Linked DNA regions of Homo sapiens: region 1 is linked to region 2. Evidence: fine-mapped expression QTL. A gene starts in region 2. The other region holds a variant in brackets. All regions are shown on one strand. Distances are between the middles of the regions.

What was found. PIP is the estimated chance that this variant, and not a neighbour inherited with it, causes the effect.
Region 1: its variant is fine-mapped to the expression of TMED10 in whole blood (TOPMed, PIP above 0.99).

What each region holds. Positions count from the first base shown.
Region 1 is chr14:75,225,740-75,234,075 of GRCh38, forward strand. No RefSeq gene overlaps it. Among named protein-coding and RNA genes, the nearest start is that of FOS, 49 kb to the right of the region's middle. RefSeq lists a cis regulatory region at 4,004-4,559. The variant A/G (reference allele first, on the strand shown) is at 4,609.
Region 2 is chr14:75,171,286-75,179,621 of GRCh38, forward strand. TMED10 (transmembrane p24 trafficking protein 10) reads right to left here and starts at 5,327. Exons shown (of 5, transcript NM_006827.6): 1 at 5,070-5,327. The coding sequence starts at 5,294. RefSeq lists enhancers at 5,151-5,723, 5,238-5,477.

The DNA of each region.
Region 1 (8,336 bases), 54 kb after region 2:
ACATTTTTGAGCATCTGGTATGCCTAGGCACTGTGCTAAGCACTAGGGATAGAATGATAACAAGACACGCACAGGGCTGGGCATGGTGGCTCACACCTGTAATCCCAGCACTTTGGGAGGCCGAGGAGGGCGGATCACCTGAGGTTAGGAGTTCGAGACCAGCCTGGCCAACATGGTGAAACTCTATCTCTACTAAAAATACAAAAAAAATTAGCCAGGAGTGTGGTGCACGCCTGTAATCCTAGCTACTCAGCAGACTGAGGTGGGAGGATTGCTTGAGCCTGGGAGGCAGAAGGTGCAGTGAGCCGGATTTGTTCCACGGCACTCCAGCCTGGGTGACAGAGCGAGAATCTATCTCAAAAAATAAAAATAATAAAAAGTAGCCAGCTGCAGTGGCTCATGCCTGTAATCCCAGTACTTTGGGAGGCTGAGGCGGGCGGATCACCTGAGGTCAGGAGTTCGAGACCAGCCTGACCAGCATGGAGAAACCCCCGTCTCTACTAAAAATACAAAATTAGCTGGGTGTGCTGGCGCATGCCTGTAATCCCAGCTACTCAGGAGGCTGAGGCAGGAGAATCACTTGAACCTGTTAGACAGAGGTTGTGGTGAGCCGAGATCGCGTCATTGCACTCTGGCCTGCACAACAAGAGCGAAACTCCGTTTAAAATAATAATAATAATAATAATTAAAAAGATACACACAGTCTCTTCTTTCATGCAGTATAGAGTCCAGCAGAGCCGGGAGACACAACTGAATAAAAGGTCACACACAGAATGCCAATAGAGAGCGCTCACATGGTCTGGGGTCAGGAAAGTGAGGTGGGTGAAGGGTGAGCAGGACAGCCTTCCAGACAGAAGGAACAGCATGCACAATGGCTGAGCAGCATGGAACAGCCTGGCACATGTCAGGAGCCCAGAGAAGGCCAGCATTCTAGGGCAGACAGAGCAAAGAGGTGAGTGGGAAGAGAGAAGGTGAGACTAGTGAGTAGAAGCTAGACCGACCCCATAGGGATATAAAGGTCCTGTTCAACATTCGAGACTTGATCCTCCACTGCTTCAGGAGGATGCAGGAAGGATTCTTGAGGCAGATGGTCTAGGAACCAGGCCCTGAAGGTTGGTGAGAATTGCAACAGGGAAAGGTAGCCCCAAAAGGTATTCCAGGTGAAGGTAACAGAGTGAACTCTGATCCAGAGGGACAGAGTCCAAGGTGCTGAGGAAATAGAGTGGCCTGGCATGGGAGGAGCCTGGCAGGGGTGGTGCATGCAGGGGTGTAGGGGGCAATAAGCCTAGATAGCAAGGTCAGAGACAACACCAGACATGGCATGCTAAGGAGTTTGGACTTTATGCCACAGACAATGGGGAGCCACTGAAGATTTTTTGATTATTAGAGAGATAGGACCAGAGCTGGCCCTTAGGAAGGTTGGATTTGGTGGGGAAATCAGGCAGGAGAATACTATTTATTTATATGAGAGGCAACATGGGTTTGATTTTAATACTCAACAATGTAATGAGTGCATGGTACCTGCCAATACTGAAAACTGGAGGGGCAAAGAGAAAAAAGGGACTGCCCCTGTCCTGTCCCATGGAGCTCGTAGATGACTAAACTGACAATGATGATACAGTGTGATGTGGTAGTGATATGACCAGCATGTTATGGGTGCCCTTAAGAAAGGGGGCCACTGAGGCTGGGCACGGTGGCTCACACTTGTAATCCCAGCACTTTCGGAGGCCGAGGCAGGTGGATGGCTTAAGTCTAGGAGTTCAAGACCACCCTGGGCAACATGGTGAAACCCCGTCTCTACAAAACATTTACATATTTGCTGGGCATGGTGACACGTGCCTGTAGTCCTGGCTACTTGGGAGGCTGTCATGGGAGCATTGCTTGAGCCCGGGAGGTTGAGGCTGCAGTGAGTTGAGATCGTGCCACTGCACCTAGCCTGGGTGACAGAGCAAGACCTTGTCTCAAAAAAATAAAAGAAAGGGGGCCACTGAGGCTGGGCACGGTGGCTCATGCCTGTAATCCTAGCACTTGGGGAGGCTGAGGTGAGCAGATCACCTGAGGTCGGGAGTTCGAGACCAGCCTGACCAACATGGTGAAACCCTGTCTCTACTAAAATATACAAAAAATTAGCCAGGTGTGGTGGCATTTGCCTGTAATCCCAGCTACTCAGGAGGCTGAGGCAGGAGAATCGCTTGAACCCAGGAGGTGGAGGTTGCAGTGAGCTGAGATTGTGCCATTGCACTCCAGCCTGGGCAACAAGAGTGAAACTCCGTCTCAAAAAAATAAAAAAAGAAAAGAAAAGAAAAGAAAGGGGGCTACTGAACTCAGCCTGAAGTGGGGCAGCGGTCAGCAAAGTCTTGTGAATGAATGGTGAGTTACCAGGAAAAAGGGTGAAGAACAGTATTCCAGGCAGCAGCTGCACGTGTAAAAAGCATGGAGTGGTGAGAGCAGAGTGGCTCAGCCTGGGCTGAGGATGAGGAAGCCGGTGCTGTGACTACAGAGGAAGCCAGAAAGAAAGCAGGGGACAGACCACGAGGACTTTGCATGTCATACTAGTTTGTTTCTTATCATTAAAGCCATGGATCCCTCCTCCCTAAATGAATAATCCCACCTTTTTCCCTTTGTTCCCACAGTCCTGGGAGGAGGAGTAGCTGTTTCCTGCAGTTGCTGCCTCAGTGATACCTCAGTGTTCTCTTTGTCATTTCACTTTCCAAGTTGAAGTTAACAATTCTTTTTTGTTTTGGACCTAGTAAACAATTCTTTATCTTAAATTGACCCTGTTACAATGTGTTACAATAGCTGGTGTGATTTCAGTTCCCCGTCTGGACCTTGACTGAGAAAGGGCCCTTGAGAGGTTTTTGTTTTTGTTTTTGAGACAGTTTCACTCTTGTTGCCAGGCTGGAGTGCAATGGCACAATCTTGGCTCACTGCAACCTCCGCCTCCCGGATTCAAGCGATTCTCCTGCCTCAGCCTCCCGAGTAGCTGGGATTACAGGCATGCACCACCACGCTCGGATAATTTTTGTATTTTTAGTAGAGACGGAATTTCTCCATGTTGGTCAGGCTGGTCTCAATCTCCTGACCTCATGATCTGCCCGCCTCAGCCTCCCAAAGTGCTGGGATTACAGGCGTGAGCTATCGCTCCTGGCTGAGAGATTTTTAAGTAAGAGGAGGCGTGCCGTCAGATTTACATTTTAGAAAGTTGTCTCTAGGGGCAATGGTGGAGAACAACGACTAGAAGCAAGGAGCCCACTGAGGCCGTGGTTCCCGTGTTACAGGGGAGATACAGCGGCAGCCAGAATGCAGAGGTGGAAGGTAGATGGGAAGGAGGGGATACAGTCAAGAGATACTAAGGAAATAGAATTAACAGAAGAGGGAGATCAAGAGATTTGCTTATGCTTCTGGGTTTGCAGGACATGCCATTTACTGGGGCACAGAATATAGAAGAATTAGGTGTGTGTCAAGAAGATCCATCATTCTGTTTTGTACACGTTAAGTCTAAGAACCACCAGGTGGAAATGGAGGCAGCTGTGTATGCAGATGTGTGGGCAGAAGAGCCAGGCAGATGGATTCGGAACTCAGCAGGGTATGGCTGTGGTTGAGGTCATGCAGAGAGCATGGTGGGTGGGGGCACTGACGGCAGAATCTCCTAGAACCCCAACATTTAGGAGATGAGCTGAGAAACAGGAACCCTAGATTATCTGGAAGAGAAGCTTGGGAACTACGAAAGTGTTCAGAGGGAGGATCAGGCAGGGCACTTGTCAGAACAACTGCAGTCTGGGTACTCAAAGGAAGGAAACTTCTCAAAGGTGTGTGTTTCAGGCATGCAGATACATATGCATTTTTAAAGTCATTCCTTCTCTTAAGTTTGGAATATTGAGGAAAAACTCTTTCACATCAACCCTGGTGCCACCAGGCGACCTGGCCCAACCCTTCACTGTTGTCCAAGTGCGTCAGGAGAAGCCACCTGGCCGGAAGGAGCCAGGTGGAGCAGAGGGCAGCCAGTCTTATAGTCAATAGTCAGTGATAAGGCCAGATGTGTGGCAATATCAAATAATCAAGAACTGGCGTCATCCCCAGACAGCATGCTTAACTGTCTTCAGTGAGGAGACAAGGAAGGGGTGGAGGGGTGTCTCAGATGCCTGGGAGGGGAAATGGGAGGGAGCTCGCATTTGTGGAGTGGGCCAGGCCCTGTGCTAGGCTCTTTCCATGTTATCTCCACTAACCCTCCCAACAGCCATGCCTGTTTCAAAGATAAGACAGATGGGGCTCCAAGAGGTTAAATAATGTGCCTCAGGTAGTAACTGAGTGACCTAGGATTTGAACCTGGAAGGCCAAAGGCCATGCTGTCTCAAGGGAGCCCTTGGTCACCAGTTCAGTCAATCTCCCTGGTGAAGGTCCGTGTGCTGTAAGTTTGGGCATGGATACAAACCTTCCCATTGAAGCTTGATATGAGTGATGGCTCAGCGCCCAATCAGCAGCCAGATTAGGTGTTCTCCATGAGTGGTTTGGTGCTAGCACTTGCTTCCAAACCACACTTCCTGTTCATCTTTCACACCTATTGTCTCACTGCTGGGTTTCTTGCCAAATGCCTCCCTTGCCACTCCC[A/G]GTATGGGGGCAGAGTGACTAGGGAACAGCTTACAATGAGGAGTCTGTCAGACCTCCTTACTTTGCAGACGTCCTAAACACCTGATGAGCAACCACCAACTACTGAGGAGAGCCAATTTGCACCCAATTTTTGAGACCCTAAAAGACACTCTTTGAGCCTGATTACAGGTCAAATACTGGTAATAGCTAAAGGGTGGCTTTCTGTGTGCTGAGCCTTGAATTGTCTGCCTAACATGCATTGTTTCATATAATTCTTAAAATAACCCCATGAGGTGAGTGCGATTATTACACCCATTTTGCCTACAAGGAAGCAGGCTGAGAGAAAAGTGTCTACACCCAGTAAGCACCAGGAATGTCTGAATCAAAGGCAGGGAGAGGTGCCTGCCAAGCCCCGCACTTCCTTTCTCTCCCTTCCCCTAAGGCCTTTGGCTTAGATACGCTGATCCTTGAGAAATCCCTCCTCTCTCTTCCTTCCTTCCTTCCTTCCTTCCTTCCTTCCTTCCTTCCTTTCTTTTTTCTTCCTTTCTCTCGCTCTCTCTCTTCTTCTTTCTTTTTTTTTCTGGAGTCTCGCTCTGTTTCCCAGGCGTGATCTTGGCTCACTGCAACCTCCACCTCCAGGGTTCCAGCAATTCTCTTGCCTCAGCCTCCTTAGTGGCTGAGACTATAGGAGTGCGCCACCACGCCCAGCGAAGTTTTGTATTTTTAGTAGACATGGGGTTTCACCATGTTGGCTAGTATGGTCTTGATCTCTTGAGCTTGTGATCCACCTGCCTCAGACTCCCAAAGTGCTGGAATTACAGACACGAGCCACCGCGCCCGGCCTATTCAGGAGCTTTTACCCCATAAATCTTCTTACACATAGAAAAATAAAAAGTTCTGTCCCTTGTTACAGGTATTTTATATTATCAGTGGCGCCAATAAGGTGGGTGCATGTGTGTGCACACATGCGTGTATATGGGTGTGTGTGCACACCTGCATGTATATGGGTGTGTGTGCACACATGCATGTATGTGTCTGTGTGTGTGCATACACATATGTGGGGGTGGAGTAGGAATCAGGCAAATCAACCTCATAGACCTGTTCCCTGTTTCTGGGGTCATATATGGCTACAGTGACTATGTTTCTGAACCACAGGCCAGGCCACATGTCCTGGCCATTGCAATGGTTGTTGAGGGGATATTACAACAGTGAAACTGATACCTGCCCATGAGATACAGAGGCTGTTGGCTAACAGTTCAGCAGATACACTGTAGCGTGCTTTGGAGACATTCTAAAGGCCTCTGAGAGAGACAATGTCTTGCCAAGAGTTGAGGCCTGAAACTTGACAGCTGCCCACAGCCCATTTAAGGGTTAGTGTTACTCGACACAATTTTAAAGACATTGTCATGGAGGATCTGATATTCTCAGAACATTCAAGAGAAATGTTATAGCCTAAAACCAGAGGGGAAATCTGAAACCATATCTTCTTTTAGGGGCTACTATAGAATTCATTAAATTAATAATTAAATCTATGTATGTACATACAAAATGTTATGGACAACTGAGCCAGCCCTACACACACACAAGATGTCAGAAAGATTACCTCTGGCCGGGCACGGTGGCTCACACCTGTAATCCCAGCACTTTGGGAGGCCAAGCTGGGTGGAACATCTGAGGTCAGGAGTTCGAGACCAGCCTGGTAAACATGGTAAAACCCTGTCTCTACTAAAAATACAAAAATTAGCTGGGCGTGGTGACTCCCGCCTGTAGTCCCAGCTACTCGGGAGGCTGAGGCACTAGAATCGCTTGAACCCAGGAGGCAGAGGTTGCAGTGAGCTGAGATCACACCACTGCACACCAGCCTGGGCAACAGAGTGAGACTTGGTCTAAAAAAAAAGAAAAGAAAAGAAAGAAAAAGAAAAAGAAAAGATTACCTCTGTTAAAAATACTCAGGCAGTAGAGATAGCAGCCAATTTTGGGTTTGCATGACATTAATTCAACAAGCATGTATTACTTCCTACCTATTAGCTCCCAGATACTTGGTACCACGCCCAAAGAAGACTGGGCCTGGGATTGCAGTGACAGTAGGGTGGCAGATGTGTGGGGGATAAGTATGATATGGTGTAGGGAGGGTTATAATACTGATGAGTGCAATGTGCTACAGAATCCAGAAGATGAAGAATTCTTGGGAGGGGTGGTGGTATTAGTTTCCTACTACTATGTAATAAATTACTACAATTTAGCAGCTTAAAGCAACAACAATGTATTATCTCACAGTTTCCATGTGTCAGGGGTACAGGTATGGCTGAACCAAGTCCTCTGCTCAGGGTCTCACAAGCTGACAATCAAGGTGTCTGCCGGGTTGCATTTCTTTCTGGAGGTTGAGGTCCTCTTCCAGGCTCACGTGATTGTTGGCAGAATTTAGTTTCTTGCATCTGTATGATTGAGGCCTTTGTTGTCTTGGCAGCTGTCACCAGGGGCCACTCTTATCAACTAGAGGCTTCCCTCAAGTCTTTGTCACATGGCCCACTTCACACATCCTCTCATAAGGTGGCAGCTTTCTTCTTCAAGACTAGCAGGAAATTCTCTTTGACTTCAGGGAGGATCCTAGTCCCTTTTTGTTTTCAGGGTTTTATTATTTATTTATTTTGAGATAGAGTTTTGCTCTTGTTGCCCAGGCTGGAGTGCAATGGTATGATCTTGGCTTGCTCCAATCTCTACCTCCTGGGTTCAAGTGATTCTCCCATGTCAGTCTCCTGAGTAGCTGAGATTACAGGCATGTACCACCATGCCCAGCTAATTTTGTATTTTTAGTAGAGATGGGGTTTTACCATGTTGGCCAGGCTGGTCTCAAACTCCTGACCTGAGGTGATCCACCTGCCTCGGCCTCCCAAAGTGCTGGGATTACAGGCATGAGCCAGCGTGCCTGGCTATTTATTTATTTTTGAGACAGGGTTTCACTCTGTCACCCAGACTGGAGTGCAGTGATGCGATCACAGCTCACTGCAGCCTCGAACTCCTGGGCTTAGGCCATCCTCCCGCTCAGCCTCCCAAGTAGCTGGGACTACAGGCATATGCCACCATGCCTGGCTAATTAAAACAATTTTTTCTTTGTAGAGATGGGGGTCTTCCTATGCTGCCTCAGCTGTTCTACAACCCCTGGGCTCAAGAGGTCCTCTTGCCTCCCAAAGTGCTGGGTTATAGGCATAAGCCATCATGCCTGGCCCCTAGTCCCTTTTTGAAGGTCTCCCCTAATTAGGACAGACCTAGCCAGACTAAACTCCCTTTTGATTAACCCAAAATCAGCTGATTAGGGACCTTAATTACATCTGCAAAATCCTTTTTACCATAATCAAGAGAGTGACATCCCATCATATTCACAAATGCTGCCAACACTCAAGGAGAGGGGATTATGTAAGATGTGTATACCAGGAGACAGAAATCTTGGAGGCCATCTTAGAATTCTGCATACCATGTGCGAGACGGGGAGAGGGAAGGGAAGGGGAAAGTGCCAGGGTGGGTAACCTTTGAGCTGAGTACTGAAGAATGAATTTAAGTTCTCTAGGCTGCCAAGAAGGGAGACAAGTGGGTAGGAGAAAGGGCAGAGAGGAAAGAACATTATGGAAAGAGAGATGGGGCCGGGTGCGGTGGCTCATGCCTGTAATCCCAGCACTTTTGGGAGGCTGAGGTGGGCGGATCATCTGAGGTCAGGGGTTTGAGACCCTGATGGCCAACATGGTGAAACCCTG
Region 2 (8,336 bases):
TTTTTTTTTTTTGAGACAAAGTCTCGCTCTGTCACCCAGGCTGGAGTGCCGTGGCACGATCTCGGCTCACTACAATCTCCGCCTCCCAGGTTCAAGCGATTCCCCTGCCTCAGTCTCCTGAGTAGCTGGGACTACAGGTGTGCACCACCATGCCCAGCTAATTTTTGTATGTTTGGTGAAGACGGGGTTTCACCATGTTGGCCAGGCTGGTCTCAAACTCCTAACCTTCAGTGATTTGCCCGCCTTGGCCTCCCAAAGCGTTGGGATTACAGACGAGAGCCACCGCGCCCAGCCTGGCTTTAAAGATGGAGGAAGGAGATATGAGCCAAAGAATACAAGTGGCTTCTAGAAGCTAGAAAGGGCAAGAAAACTGATCCCCACCCCACTCCCAAAAAGTCTCCAGAAGAAACATGGCTCTGCCAAAACCCTGATTTTAGGACTTCTGACCTTCAGAACGATTAAGACAAATCCCTGATGTTTTAGGCCATAAATCTGTGGTAATTTGTTACAGCAGCAATAGGACACTAAGACACACCTTAATCCACTTATCAATCTTAGCAGCAGCAATAAGGGGCACAAAAAGTACTGTGTGTTCCTGCAGTGACACCCTCGACAGAAAGATTAAACCTGAATCTGGTTACATCTTTTTTTTTTTTTTTACACTTTAAGTTCTGGAGGGGTACATGTGCAGAACGTGCAGGTTTGTTACATAGGTATACGTGTGCCATGGTGGTTTGCTGAACCTCTGGTTACATCTTTACAGCTGATTCCTTTTACAAAAAATATAGTGGAAGAACTGGTTAAAAGACACCTCTAGGAAGCAAAAGACAACTCCGAAATGCTGTACATTCTTTTAAGAGCAATTGACTCCAACAATTCAATTGCAAGGATAAAAAAGGAGGTGAGAGGAAGAGGAGACTGCTCTAGATTAGACACTTGAGAGAGACAACAAATTAACTTTCAAAAGATATTTTTGAGACAAGTGGGATCATACTATATGGACTGGGTATCAAGGAATCATTGTTCTTTTTTTTTTTTTGGAGACAGAGTCTCACTCTGTAGCCCAGGTAGGAGTGCAGTGGCACAATCATACTTCACTGCAACTTCCGCCTCCCAGGTTCAAGAGATTCTCCTGCCTCAGCCTAGAGCAGCTGGGATTACAGATGTGTGCCACCACGCCCAGCTAATTTTTTTTTAAATTTTTAGTAGAGACGGGGTTTCACCGTGTTGGTCAGGCTGGTCTCGAACTCCTGACCTCGTGATTCGCCCACCTCGGCCTCCCAAAGTGCTGGGATTACAGGCATGAGCCACCGCGCCTGGCCATCATTGTTCATTTTGTGAGGCGTGATTAGCCACGTAACATTGTGGTTTATATTTTTAAAGAGATGCATGCTGAAGTAGGCAGGAATGAAATACATGACATCTGGGATTTACTTTAATACAATTTAGCATGAAATGATATGGCAGAAGCAGTTAAGATGACACGTGTGGAAAGATCCTGATAATTGGTGAATATGAGTAATGGGTAGAAAGGTGAACTCACTATACTATTCCCTATAACACTGAAAACAAATCAATGCCCGAACCAATCTGAATTGGCTGGTGAAATTTTTTTTTTTTAATTTTTAGGGGGCCAAACCATTTTATTGAGGAAAATGGAGTGGCAAAGCAGTGGTGAGGACAATGAGATCCATGGCCCTCGGGTGGGCCGGGAGCTCCCAAGCTCTGCAGTGCTGAAACCTGGCTGATGAAATTTAAAAGTCTGGAGCTTTCACATCAAAATCTGGTGTTCCTATTTCATTTGAAAAATCAGATGTGGGCTAGGTGCAATGGCTCATGCCTGTAATCCGAGCACTTTGGGAGGCCGAGATGGGCGGATCACTTGAGCCCAGGAGTTCGAGACCAGCCTGGGTAACATGGCGAAACTCCATTTCTACAAACAAATATGAAAACTAGCCGGATATGGTGGCATGTGCCTGTAATCCCAGCTACTCAGGAGCCTGAAGTAGGAGGATCACCTGGGCCCTGAGGAGGTCAAGGCTGCAGTGAGCTGTGATGGTGCCACTGGAGGGAGGGAGGGAGAGAGGGAGGAAGAAAGGAAGGAAGGGAAGGAAGAGGGGAGGGGAGGGGAAGGGAAAAATCAGATGTGGCAAAAAGGCCCACATGCTTGCATGGCAAGTCTCATCAAGAACTAAGTATTGGTCACCCCTAATTAACAGTTTCTACTACGTCCAATTATTCTCCCATTTATCATCACTGCTTTTTTTTTTAAAATACCTGGTCCAATTTATTCAATGATATTACCTATTTGGCATTTGGGTTTAGGACCCTTGTGGTTCCATTAAGCTGGTTAGTAGCAAAAGAACAGAGCAGACACAGGAGAGCAACTGAGTGATAGTAAAGTGCTAGGGTGTGTGCACAAAGTCCTGCTGGTTTTTGTTTTGCTTTGTTTTGTTTTGTTTTGAGACCGAGTCTTGTTCTGTTGCCCAGGCTGGAGTGCAGTGGCACGGTGTCAGCTCACTGCAGCCACTGCCTCCCAGGTTCTAGTGATTCTCCTGCCTCAGCCTCCCGGGTAGCTGGGATTACAGGCACACGCCACCATGCCCAGCTAATTTTTGTATTTTTAGTAGAGACTGGATTTTAGCATGTTGCTGAGGCTGGTCTTGAACTCCTGACCTCAGGTGATCCACCCGCCTCGGCCTCCCAAAGAGTTAGGGTTACAGGCATGACCCACCAAGCCCGGCCTAAAGTCCTGCTGTTGAGGTGCCTTCAGCAGCCCTAAATTCAATGTAATTCCCATAAGGCCATGCTAAACTACAGTTCCTGTTATTTATAGAGTACTTACTAGAAGCAAGGTAACATGCTTGGCATTCTAGAAAAGATGAACCTGAAAATAGTTCCTACCCTGAGGATACTAACAGTCTAGTAAGTAGGTCAAGGCATAAACAAAAACAGTTCAGAAAATAAGTGAGTTCAGGGTACTGTCCAGGGTGGCTCCATGTAGAATGCAAAGTGGGAAGTGACCACACGTATAGCTCAGAAACAGATCATGAAGAGCACAACAAAGCATGTTGAGAAATTTAAACTATCAATAAGCAATAGTGAGCCACTGAAGGGCTTTAAAATATAAGAACAAATCAGACAGCAACACGAGATGAGAGCAAGGTCTCTTTCATTGCTGAAATTCCCTGAGTCCATGAACATCCTCTGAAGAGTTGGAAGCATGATCTCCCACCCCGGAAACACTATATCTAAGCTTCTAAAATCATGCCATCACTATTTTCCTGGGTAGAGAGTTTGATACCCAAACAGAATAATAAAATGATGGGTCACAGATTAATTGCCCTGAAAATAGTTTGTCTCTCCCAAATAAAGTAGAAATAAATTACATGTATTACCACACTACTGGGTTCCACTACTTTAACATAAGTTATGGTCTTATTATATCTGAAACCCTTTTAAAAAGTAAAAACGAGGCCAGGCGCGGTGGCTTACGGCTGTAATCCCAGCACTTTGGGAGGCCGAGGCGGGCAGATCACGAGGTCAAGAGATCAAGACCATCCTGGCCAACATGGTGAACCGTCATCTCTACTAAAATACAAAAATTAGCTGGGTGTGGTGGCTGGCGCCTGTAGTCCTAGCTACTCGGAAGGCTGAGGCAGGAGAATTGCTTGAAACCGGGAGGCAGAGGCTGCAGTGAGCCGAGATCGCGCCACAGCACTCCAGCCTGGACGACAGAGCAAGACTCCGTCTCAAAAAAAAAAAAAAAAAAAAAAAAAGTAAAAATGTTTCTATTTAGTATAACAAAAGCCCCATTGTGTTACAAAGAAAAAAAAAGACACTTTGCTTATTGTGAATGAATAAAATTACCTAAAATGCAACCAAATACTGACAGATATCAAATTATATTAATGTCTCAAAGACCAGGCCAGGCTACTCTTAGCTACAAAACAGAATCAAACTGGTATTATGGCAGTAGTTGTCACCATCCAAGAGCATAGTTGGTATTTACATAAAAGAGCCAAGTCCAGATTCTGGCATACCAAAGAAAAAGGACTAGAGACTGAGACCATTTTGTAACCAATAATCGACTTTAATCAACTACAGAAATTACAAATTTAAAACAAGGAAGGAATAAGGTTGCAGCGCTTTTCCCTCAACATACTTAACTACCAAACTAAGTAAGAATCTATTCCATCGCAAGGACAGAAAACCAAACACCGCATGTTCTCACTCATAGGTGGGAATTGAACAATGAGAACACTTGGACACAGGGTGGGGAACATCACACACCGGGGCCTGTCGTGGGGTGGGGGGAGGTGGGAGGGATAGCATTAGGAGACATACCTAATGTAAATGACGAGTTAATGGGTGCAGCACACCAACACGGCACATGTATACATATGTAACAAACCTGAAAGTTGTGCGCATGTACCCTAGAACTTAAAGTATAATAATAATTTTGAAAAAAAAAAAAGAATCTATTCCATCTGTGACACTTACTAGTTTATCCTACCTCTGAGTCTCAGTTTCCTCATTTGTAAAATGGGGCTAACAGTACCTACCTACTTCATAGGGTAGTGCATGAACCAAATGGTAATATATGCAAAGTAGCACAGTAACTGACACAGCAGATGCTCAATAAATAACATTTTATTAATCACGGTTAGCTCTGTCTCCTTTACTTTCCTGCAGGTATCGCGGTATCTTATGATGCCAATCCGTATAAATATTCAACACCCCAACATTTATTTGGAGAACCAAATTACGGTTCAATGTATCTGAGACCAAAACTGGTATAGGACGTTGACAACCGCCCCAGCTCAGGTGTCACCACATCCGCCAAAGCCTCGCAGCCCTTCTTGGGGTTCCCAGGCGTTGGTGACCCGCCCCGCCCCGCGACAGGCAACCAGCGGGGTGAGGGGGCGGGCTCCACCGCACGTCCTTTGCGCTCCCGGGAGGCCAGAACAACTCCCAGGCCTCCGCCGGCCCGACTCCCCCGAACCCGAGCCTCCCCTCGCCTAAGCCTGCCGTCTTCCCTCCCGGCCCCACGTCGCCCAATGCCGCACCTTGAGGTGGCTGCGCAGGCCGCCAGCGCCCCCAGACTGGTCGGAGATCTCGTACGCGCCAGTCACTAGCAGGTCCTTGTGAATCTCCTCACGGAGGCACTTGCGAGAGTTAATGGGCAGATGGAAGGAGATGGCAAGGACCAATCTGGGGCCGAGCAGGAACAAAAGCAGCAACGCTAACGGAAAAGGGCCGCGCCGGGCTGGTGGGCCAGACAAACCAGACATGGTGCTGGAGACTCGTTCACCACCGAAGGCCTCAACCGCGCCGGAACCGGGGGGACCCACGTGACTCACCTCTGACCTTCTGATGCCGTCCGCGCCATTTTGGAGACTGGCATGTAGAGAAAGACTCTATAGCGAATCTTTTGAAAAGGGAAGAAAGGATAGGTACCATGTCAAAACCGCAAGTTTAAGCAGTTAAAGAAGCTTTAATAGAATACTATTGCAACAGTTTTATTTTTGTTGAAGTTAGTGACTACTGAGTCGGCCATGGCAAGTATGGGCAGCCCTGGAAGTAATTCTCCTTTAATTTCCGAAAGATGTACCCACGAGTTTAAAGGCGAGTGACACCATAGCAACCAAGCCCCAATAGGAAACAGCCACAAGGCCCTTCGCTGGGCCCGCCCACCGGCCGCCTAGGCGCGAGGGCGGGGAATGAGGCTGTGTCTCCGGGGATGGGGCGGTTTGCAGGCACTCCCAAGCGCCTTTGACACCTTGATGACACCTGGGGCACTGAGACACTAGAGAGGAAAATTTCGAGGAAAGATTTCAACTTGGCTATTAGACAGTGTGGACCTTAGAGAAGAAGTTTTAGGGGTCACCTGATGAATGTGTGCCGGGCAGACATCCGGTTCATGTCCCATAGCAGGGTATTTGGGCTGGAGTAATTGTCTGGCTAACTGAATGTACATGGTATTATTATTATTATTATTATTATTATTATTATTATTATTTTAGCAAACATTGAATGTGTTCTAAGCTATATTCAAAATAAATTTGAATTTGGTATTTAAATTGAATAAAACAACATGTTTTGGTCCAGTCTCAGATGAACATAATTAAGGGGTTAGCAGATAAGCGTTGTCAGGGAAAGTGCGTATGTGTGTGTTTTAAGTTCACAAACACTTTAGGGATCAAATTAACTATTAACATTTGCAAATAGACAAGCAAATTGACACGGTAATAATTCATGCATTCATTCAATGGAGTACCTACTGTGTGCCAGACATTATGCTATGCATGTATGTCAACACGTTTATTGATTTAACAAACTATTACTGGGATACTAGCAAATATTCAGAGCTGAAGAATATATTAAAATAAACGGCCAGGCGCGGTGGCTCACACCTGTAATCCCAGCACTTTGGGAGGCTGAGGCGGGTGGATCACGAGGTCAGGAGTTCAAGACCAGCCTGGCCAAGATGGTGAAACCCCGTCTCTACTAAAAATACAAAAAAATTAGCTGGGCTTGGTGGCGGGCGCCTGTAATCCCAGCCACTCAGGAGGCTGAGGCAGAGAATTGCTTGAACCCGGGAGATGGAGGTTGCAGTGAGCTGAGATGGCGCCACTGCACTCCAGCCTGGGCGACGGAGTGAGACTTGTCTCAGAAAAGAAAGAAGGAAAGAAAGAAAATGGAATTGCTCCTTGGCCTTTTGGCTAACATCAAGTGTAGAAAATAAACGTGGAAGACACAATAGCCCATGTTGGGAATCATTACCTACTTTGATTAACGTTTATTGAGCATCTTCAGAAATATCCAGAAGATGGACTGTCTGCCCTTAGTAATGTACATGATTGGTGTTTTTTTTTTTTAAACTTAGTCCATTTAGTTATTTTCCTAGAAATGAAATCCCACAGACAAAACAAGAACAAACAAAGGAGCTGTAAAGCATTTAAAATTTTGACAAATGCCATACAATAATTATTTTATGAGGTGTCCACTTAGGAGCATTTAGTTGGATTGTTGTATCACTGATCTAAGATAAGATTGGTAGTCCACACAGTACATCCTGATAATTTGCATTGGCCTTTTCCCTGCCAATGCAGGGAATCAGTATAAGCAGTTATCTAATTCATTGTCTACTTGCATTCCTGAGGCTCTGCTGACCAATAGCAAGAGATCTCAACCCATGAAAAAACTGTGTATGTGTTTCCTTTAAATTTCCATCTTACATTTACATAATAGATAATGCAATTTAAAATATTTTCACATATCATAATGATCTCCTCTGACATTTTCAAAAACCCTGTGAAATAGTCTGGACAATCTGTTCATTTTACAGATGAGGAAACCGAGGTTCTGAGAGGCCAAATAATTATACTGTTAAAGAAAAAATACTTCATGACATTTGTTAAAGAACTGTAAAGCAGGCCAGAGGCGGTGGCTCACACCTGTACTCCTAGCACTTTGGGAGGCCAAGGCGGGCGGATAACTTGAGGTCAGGGGTTCGAAACCAGCCTGGCCAACATAATGAAATCTTATCTCTACTAAAAATACAAAAAATTAGCCGGGCATGGTGGTGGATACCTGTAATCCCAGCTACTTGGGAGGCTGAGACAGGAGAATTGCTTGAACCCAGGAGGTGGAGGTTGCAGTGAGCCAAGATCACACCATTGCCCTCCAGCCTGGACGACAGAGCGAGACTCCTTCTCAAAAAAAAAAAAAAAATTGTAAAGCAAATCTTTATTCAAGGGGGACTGCCAAGATAGGTAATACAAGGGCCTATGACAATGGGGTTTTGTAGTAGGAAGGAGAGATCGGGCTCAATTCCAAATACAAGGAAAAGTAGGGATTTACAGCCAAAAATCAGGGTCAGTGGATGGAAAATTACTAAAAGGAAATATTGGGAGTAAGGGGAGATTCTGGCTAAACTAACTTAGCAGGATTCTTCCTAAAATTGGACAATGCAGAGTCATGGAAGTCCAAAAGTCAGAGCCTATTGAGAAGACAGATCAGAACAGCGTGGGTAAAGTTTGGTCAAGGAGAGAATCTTTGTCAGTACCCCAAACCTCATAAGCTTAAAAGTGACAAAAGCAGTCTAGGGGCCTGAGCTATCCTCAGGAAGATGCTATTATTTCTTATTTTAAAGATGAAGAAACTCAGATGCACAGCAGTTACTTTTCTGTGTCACAGCTCTCAAGTCCTTTCTTTTCTTTTTTGAGATGGAGTCTGGCTCTGTTGCCCAGGCTAGAGCGCAGTGGTGCGATCTCAGCTCACCACAACCTGCCCCTCCTGGGTTCAAGTGATTCTCCTGCCTCAGCCTCCTG